Homo sapiens: one gene and its partner. The protein of the gene in region 2 purifies or fractionates together with the protein of the main gene of each other region. This does not show direct contact. Each region holds a gene or a part of one and is shown on either strand. Other genes may lie near its edges.

Region 1 (3,754 bases), on a different chromosome or scaffold from region 2:
CATCTTGCTATGTTGCCCAGGCTGCCCTCAAGCTCTTGGGTTCAAGCCATCCTCCACCTCAGCCTCCTGAGTAGCTGGGACTATAGCCATGTCCCATTGCCCTGCTTTGAAAGATTTTATGTCGTTTCAAGATAGCAGGCCAGGTGTGATGGCACACATCTATAATCTCAAGAATTTGGCAGGGCCACTTGAGGCCAGGAGTTCAAGACCAGCCTGGGCAACATAACAAGATCCCGTCTCTACAAAATATTTTACAAATTAGCTGGGTGTGGTGGTATGTTGAGTGTAGTCCCAGCTACTCAGGAGGCTGAGGGAGGAGAATGGCTTGGGCTCAGGAGTTCAAGGTTGAAGTGAGCTATGACTGTGCCACTGCACTCCAGCCCAGATGACAGAGCAAGACCTGGTCTAGAAAAAATAAAGTTTTCATTTAATGCACAACACAATAAATGAATGTTTTTGTTTAAAATGAAAAGTTTATTTGCTGAGTACACCAAATAGGATGCAAGCACTGTCATGACAAATATACAGAAATATGCAGATCAACATAAAACAGTAATTTAGTTTAAATGAAGGGAAATCTCTTTAAATGTTATGACAACATACTCCCAAGAAGAACCTTTTCTTCAGTTAAGTTAATTATACATTTCAATAAAATAAAGGATAATGGATTAGTGGAAGTTAGCTTGTGAATTTTTCTTAAAAATAAAACTCCAACTCTATTAATCCATGCCAGTTAAACACTATAACTAAAATTTCCAAATAAGCGCAAAAGGAGATGAAGCAGTTAGTTACCTTTTTTGCTTGAACAGTCCAAAGGAAAATGGTTACTATAAATACAGCAGGCAAACTGTTAGACTGACCTAGAACATAGTGTACTAAATTTCAGTCTCAAATTGTGCTAAATGCTCATCATTAGTATGGCACATTTGGTCCATGATGTGGTTTAATGCCAAGACAGATCCCAATTTGTTACAGAAACACATAGATTACTGTTGCTTTTTGTTTTTAAATACATATATTTTAAAAAGCCAGGTATACTTCCACATACAAAGGCAGGTTTCCCAGGAGAAATTTATAGGAAGTAGTCTGGGGTGCGCCGTGTAACATGAGGCTCACCACGACGAGGCGCTGGGTCAAATTGAAGGCTGTAAATGGCAAAAAAGGAAGCAAATAAAGGATCTGACTTTGCAAAGAAAACAAATGAATAAAGAACAAGACACTGTAGTAGAAACAGCAGTCCTGCTTTCCCACCATGACTACATCACTTACGGCTGGAATGGCCATGGGCAAATCACTGCAGATGCTCCCATTCCAACTAACTGCTTCATAGGGCTATGGTGAAAATTTAAGAAGACAGAATGTCTGGTTTGGTGCCTGGCATAACAATTTCTAAATGTTATTATTATTTAAAAGCTTAAATAATTAAAGATTAAATAATATCAAGTTTAAATAATTAAACAATAATTGTTTAATATTATTTAATAATAATAATAATATCACTTTTTTTTTTTTTTTTTTTGAGGCAGAGTCTTGCTCTGTCGCCCAGGCTGGAGTGCACTGGCACGATCTCGGCTTATTGCAAGCTCCGCCTCCTGGGTTCATACCATTCTCCTGCCTCAGCCTCCTGAGTAGCTGGGACTACAGGAACCCATTACCATGCCCGGCTAATTTTCTTATTTTTTTTTAGTAGAGACGGGGTTTCACCGTGTTAGCCAGGATGGTCTCATCTCCTGACCTCATGATCCACCCGCTTCGGCCTCCCAAAGTGCTGGGATTACAGGCGTGAGCCACCGCGCCAGGCCTAATATCACTATTTTCTTGAGTGTTTCTGGCTAGTGGATTTTTCCAATTATTTTTGTGCCTCTATTGAGATGATCATGTGTTTTTTAATCCCTTAATATTAATATGGTTTATTATATTGATTTTCATGTTTTGAACCAACCTAGCATTCCTGGGATAAATCCCACTTGCTCATGGTGTATAATCTTTTTACATATTGCTAGATCCAGGTTGCTGGTACGTATGTTGGAAAATTTTATATCTGTATTCGTAACAAATGCTGGTCTGTTTTTGCCTTTGTCTACTTTTGGTATCAAGGATAATAGTGCAGGTGTGACAGAATGAATGCAGTAGTCCTCCTCTTCTGTTTTTTGGAAGTGTTTGTGAAGGATTGGCATTAACTCGTTTTTATTTTTGAGACAGGGTCTCACTCTGTTGCCCAAGCTGGAGTGCAGTGGTGTGATCATGGCTCACTGTAGCCTCAACCTCCCTGGGCTCAGGTGATCCTCCCACTTCAGCTTCCTGAGTAGCTGAGACTATAGGCTGAGCCACCACACCAGGTTAATTTTTGTATTCTTTGTAGATACAGGGTTTTACCATGTTACCCAGGCTGATCTTGAATCCTGGGCTCAATCTGCCTGCCTTGGCTTCCCAAAGTGCTAGGATTACTGGTTAGAGCCACCGCACCTGGCCAATTCCTTTCTTTAAACATTTGGTGGACTTCATCAATGAAGCCAATTGGGCTTGGCCTTTTATTTGTGGGGAGTTTTAACTTTTTCACTCATTTATTTATATTCTTTTAAATTAAATAGGGACAAGGTCCTGCTATGTTGTCCAGGCTGGTCTCAAACTCCTAGTCTCAAGCAATCCTCTCAGCTTGGCCTCCCAAAGCTGGGATTTATAGGTGTGAGCCACCATGCTGGCTCAATATTTTCACATTTGAAAGGTCATTCAGATTTCATATTTCTTGAGTCAGTTTCAGTAGTTTCTTTTTAGGAATTAGTACGTTTTATCAAAGTTACTGAATTTGCTGGCATATAGTTATTTATTGTATTCCCTTATAATCCTTTTTATTTCAGTAAGGTCTCTAGTGATTTGGTAATGTGAGTCTTTACTCCTTTTTTTCTTGGCCAGTCTAGTTAAGGCTTTTCAAAGCATCAACTTTGGGTTTTGTTGATTTTTCTGTAATGATTTTCTACTGTTTGTTTATTTCTACTCTAAACCTCGTTTCATAAGCTTACATCAGGTTTAGTTTACTCTGCTTTTTCTAGGTCCTCAAGTATAAAGATAGGTTACTGATTTCAAATCTTCTTGTTTTTTTTTTTGTTTTTTTCTTTCTGAGACAGGGTCTTTGCTCTGTTGCCTAGGCTGTAGTGTAGTGCTGTGATCATAGCTCATTGCAGCCTTGATCAACTGGGCTCAAGTGATCCTCCATCTCAGCCTCCCATACAGCTGAGACTACAGGTGCTTGGCACCATACCTGGCTAATTTTTAAATTTTTTTGTAGAGACGGGGTCTCCCTATGTTGCCCAGGCTGGCCTCAAGTGATCCTCCTACTTTGGCTTCCCAAAGTGTTGGGATTACTTGTGTGAGCCACAGCATCCAGCCATGTTAATGATTTCTAATTTCATTTCCTTGTGTTTGGAGAATATCCTTTTAAGAATCTAATCTTCTTAAATTGCCTGAGGCATGTTTTACAGTCTAGCATATGACTATGTTTCATGTTTACTTGAGAGGAAAGTATTCTGCTGTTGTTGGGTGTTGTTTTACAGACATGAGGTATACAGTCAGTTTACAGTGTTGCTCAAGTCTTCTCCTGCCTTCATCTCCTGCCTAGTTGTTCTATCCAAGAGAAACAGTTTCTGTTGCTTAGTTTTTTCCTGTGTAGAGGTCACACTTCCTTGTTCTTTCCATGTCTTATAATCTGTGGTTGAAAAATTGGACATTATAGATAACATATTGCAGTAGCTCTGGA
Region 2 (3,754 bases):
CCGGGTACAGTGGCTCATGCCTGTAATCCCAGCACTTTGGGAGGCTGAGGTGGGCAGGTCACCTAAGGTCAGGAGTTCAAGACTAGCCTGGCCAACATGGTGAAACCCCGTCTCTACTAAAAATACAACAATTAGCCAGGCATGGTGGCCGGTGCCTATAATCCCAGCTACACGGGAGGCTGAGACGGGAGAATCGCTTGGACCTGGGAGATGATGGTCGCAGTGAGCCAAGATCACACCACTGCACTCCAGCCTCGGCAGCTGAGTGAGACTCCATGTCAAAAAAAAACAGCCATTCCCGGCTGGGCGCCGTGGCTGACACCTGTAATCCCAGCACTCTGGGAGGCCGAGGCGGACAGATCACCTGAGGTCAGGAGTTTGAGACCAGCCTGGCCAACATGATGAAACCCCGTCTCTACTAAAAATACAAAAAATTAGGCATGGTGGCGGATGCCCATAATCCCAGCTACTCGGGAGGCTGAGGCGGGAGAATCGCTTGAACCTGGGAGGCAGAGGTTGCAAGAGCCAAGATCGTGCCACTGCACTTGAGCTTGAGCGACAGAGCGAGACTCCGTCTCCAAAAAAAAAAATAAAGTAAAAAATAAAAAGGCGTTCCCTGTTCAAAATTGTGTTTAAAATTCTCTTATGTTCTTGGCTGACATAATTATAGTTTTTTTTTTTAATTTGCCTTTTAATAATTTTTATTTAGATCTTTATATGAAATTTAGTTTTTAGGATAGAATCTTGGCATATAGAATTACATATATGAACATAATATATATCATGTTACATGCATATATGCACACTGTCGAGCTTGTTAATTGTTCTATTTTGGCTAGCTTAGGCCCTTTTTCTTCAGGATTAAAGATCTGAACTAAGCCAGGCGACTGGGTAGCAGATGTGGAAGCTGATGGTTAGGCCCAGGGCATGGCCAGGTGACAGCTCTCCAGTCACTCTTCTCTGATTTTCATTTGTTACTTTTCTTACCCAGAAAGGATCTATGTTTATGAAAATAAAAAGGAAGCATTGCAAGCTGTCAAGATGATCAAAGGGTCCCGATTTAAAGCTTTTTCTACCAGAGAAGACGCTGAGAAATTTGCTAGAGGAATTTGTGATTATTTCCCTTCTCCAAGCAAAACGTCCTTACCACTGTCTCCTGTGAAAACAGCTCCACTCTTTAGCAATGACAGGTTGAAAGGTAAATCATGCAGCCGTTCACATCTTGATGTTCCTGTCACATTGATCCCACCCTGTTTTGTGCCTTCTTTCCTCTGATGTGGTAACTTGTTTTCTCCATGAGGGTAGAGTCGATGGGGTCTCAGTGGACCAGGAGGCCATGCTGGCTCTGATGCTCGTGTAATTAGCATCTTGACTCTGGAGAAGCTGAAAAGAACGCTGTGGCCGCTTCCATCTGTCCCCGTGTCTGTTGGATTTTTTTCTTTTTTTTTTGTAAAGAGACAGGGTCTTGTTCTTTTGCCAGCCTGGAGTGCAGTCTGGTGCTATCATGGCCCACTGCAGCCTCAAACTCCTGGGCTTAAGCAATCCACCTGCTTTAGCCTCCCAAGTAGCTGAGAAATAGGCGTGCACCACCACACCCAGCTAATTTAAACTTTTTCTTTTTTTTTTTTTTTTTTTTGAGATGGAGTCTTGCTCTGTCGCCCAGGCTGGAGTGCAGTGGTGCGATCTTGGCTCACTGCAAGCTCCACCTCCCGGGTTCAAGCGATTCTCCTGCCTCAGCCTCCCGAGTAGCTGGGATTACAGGTGCACACTGCCACACCCGGCTAATGTTTGTATTTTTAGCCACCATGTTGGCCAGGCTAGAATTTAAACTTTTTTTATGGAGACAGGGTCTTGCCATGTTGCCAAGGCTGGTTGAATTGCTGGCATCAAGTGATCCTCCCATCTCAGCCTCCCAAAGTGCTGGGATGACAGGCGTGAGCCCCTGCGCCTTTTTGGATCCTGAAACCAGTCTACTTCCCCACCTGAAGCTATACCTACTTCAAGGACTAGGGCATCTGGAGAAGGCGGGCTTATCTGTAGGAGCGGTCCAGCCCGAAGTCTGACCCATGCCCACCTCCCAGCTCAGAACTAGGGTTTTGTGTGAAGAGGCTCTTCACGGTCAGTGTGGGGTAGAACCTCCGCCTTTACCTTTCATCTGGCCTCAGTTCCTGCTCCCTCTCGCAGCTCACAGTTGTCTGGGCTTCCCTGGCGGGCTGGTACTCCAGAGGAATGTTGCCCTCTCCTTCCAGTCATCCGCCTGCCCTCAGTCAGCCTTATACAGGTGCTTCCTGGATGGAAACCAGAGTGGCTTCTAACAGGTACGGATTTCCTTCTTTGCAATTTGTGAGGATTCCTCAGAAGGAAATCACCTTAAGACAGAAATCAGGCCGGGCGAGGTGGCTCACGCCTGTGATCCCAGCACTTTGGGAGGCTGAGGCGGGTGGATCATCTCAGGTCAGGAGTTTGAGACCAGCCTGGCCTACATGGTGAAACCCCGTCTCTATTAAAAATACGAAAATTAGCTGGCCGTGGTGGCAGGTGCCTGTAATCCCAGCTACTTGGGAGGCTGAGGCAGGAGAATTGCTTGAAACTGGAAGGCGGAGGTTGCAGTGAGCTGAGATCGCGCCACTGCACTCCAGCCTGGGCGAAAGAGCAAAACTGCGTCCCCCCCAAAAAAATCAGCTGGGCGTGGTGGCAGGCTCCTTAATCCTGTAATCCTTTGCAGCCACACTGTGCACATCGAAGGTCTTGCGTGATTTCTGGGAGTGTTCCCTTGCCCGCTGCTGCCGTTATTCCTCCTCCACCTACTGACCGAGCTTTCAGAGTTCACTGGCCGGGTGTGGTGACTCGTCCCTGTAATTACAACACTTTTGGGGGCTGAGGCAGAAGGATCCCTTGAAGCCAGGAGTTTGAGACCAGCCTGGGCAACATAGACCTCATCTCTAAAAATACGTGTGTATATATATATATATATATATATGTATATAAGCCAGGCGTGTTGGCATACAACTGTAGTCCCAGCTACTTGAGGGCCTGAGATCACTTGAGCCCAGGAGGTCGAGGCTGCAGTGAGCTATATTCGTGCCACCACACTCCAGCCTGGGTAACAGAGCCAGACCCTGTCTCTGAAAAAACACAAAGTTCACCAAACTTGGCCTCATTCACAGAGCCTTTCCCAGCAAGATTGTGGCAGGGTCTGGCTGCTCTTCCACTTGCTGTGCTCATGGGGGCGCGCTGGCTGCCGTTGTAGGCTGGGGCCCCCAGTGAGATTGTGGCCGGGTCTGGCTGCTCTCCCTCACTTGCTCTGCTGACGGGCACGCTGGCTGCCATTGATTGCGTTGCATGCTGGGGCCGGTGGCCGTGGGCCCTTCTCGTCTTTTCTCACCTGTGCCTCCCAGTTGGCCCAGAAGCCTCTGTGGAAAGCTGCTTATCCCTCATCAGAGGGTGCATGGGTGATGAGTGACTTTTGGTGAAACTGATTGTTCTTAAATTCTGTCTCTTACTGACAGATGGTTTGTGCTTGTCGGAATCAGAAACAGTCAACAAAGAGCGAGCGAACAGTTACAAAAATCCCCGCACGCAGGACCTCACCGCCAAGCTTCGGAAAGCTGTGGAGAAGGGAGAGGAGGACACCTTTTCTGACCTTATCTGGAGCAACCCCCGGTATCTGATAGGCTCAGGAGACAACCCCACTATCGTGCAGGTAGGTCTCGGCGGTTCCCTCGGGCAGGTGTGCGGTCCCGGCCGTTCCATC

What was found. The genes of interacting proteins can lie anywhere in the genome.
Region 1: the proteins of ANKLE2 (region 2) and PPP2CB purify together in Homo sapiens (affinity purification with mass spectrometry; 6 studies listed by BioGRID and IntAct, with this or other methods). This does not show direct contact.

What each region holds. Positions count from the first base shown.
Region 1 is NC_000008.11:30,785,163-30,788,916, forward strand, and holds the end of PPP2CB (serine/threonine-protein phosphatase 2A catalytic subunit beta isoform), read right to left. Parts: intron 1,146-3,754; coding exon 1,073-1,145; 3' UTR 454-1,072; downstream 1-453.
Region 2 is NC_000012.12:132,748,087-132,751,840, reverse strand, and holds part of ANKLE2 (ankyrin repeat and LEM domain-containing protein 2), read left to right. Parts: intron 1-991; coding exon 992-1,198; intron 1,199-3,509; coding exon 3,510-3,703; intron 3,704-3,754. UniProt on the Homo sapiens protein: Involved in mitotic nuclear envelope reassembly by promoting dephosphorylation of BAF/BANF1 during mitotic exit.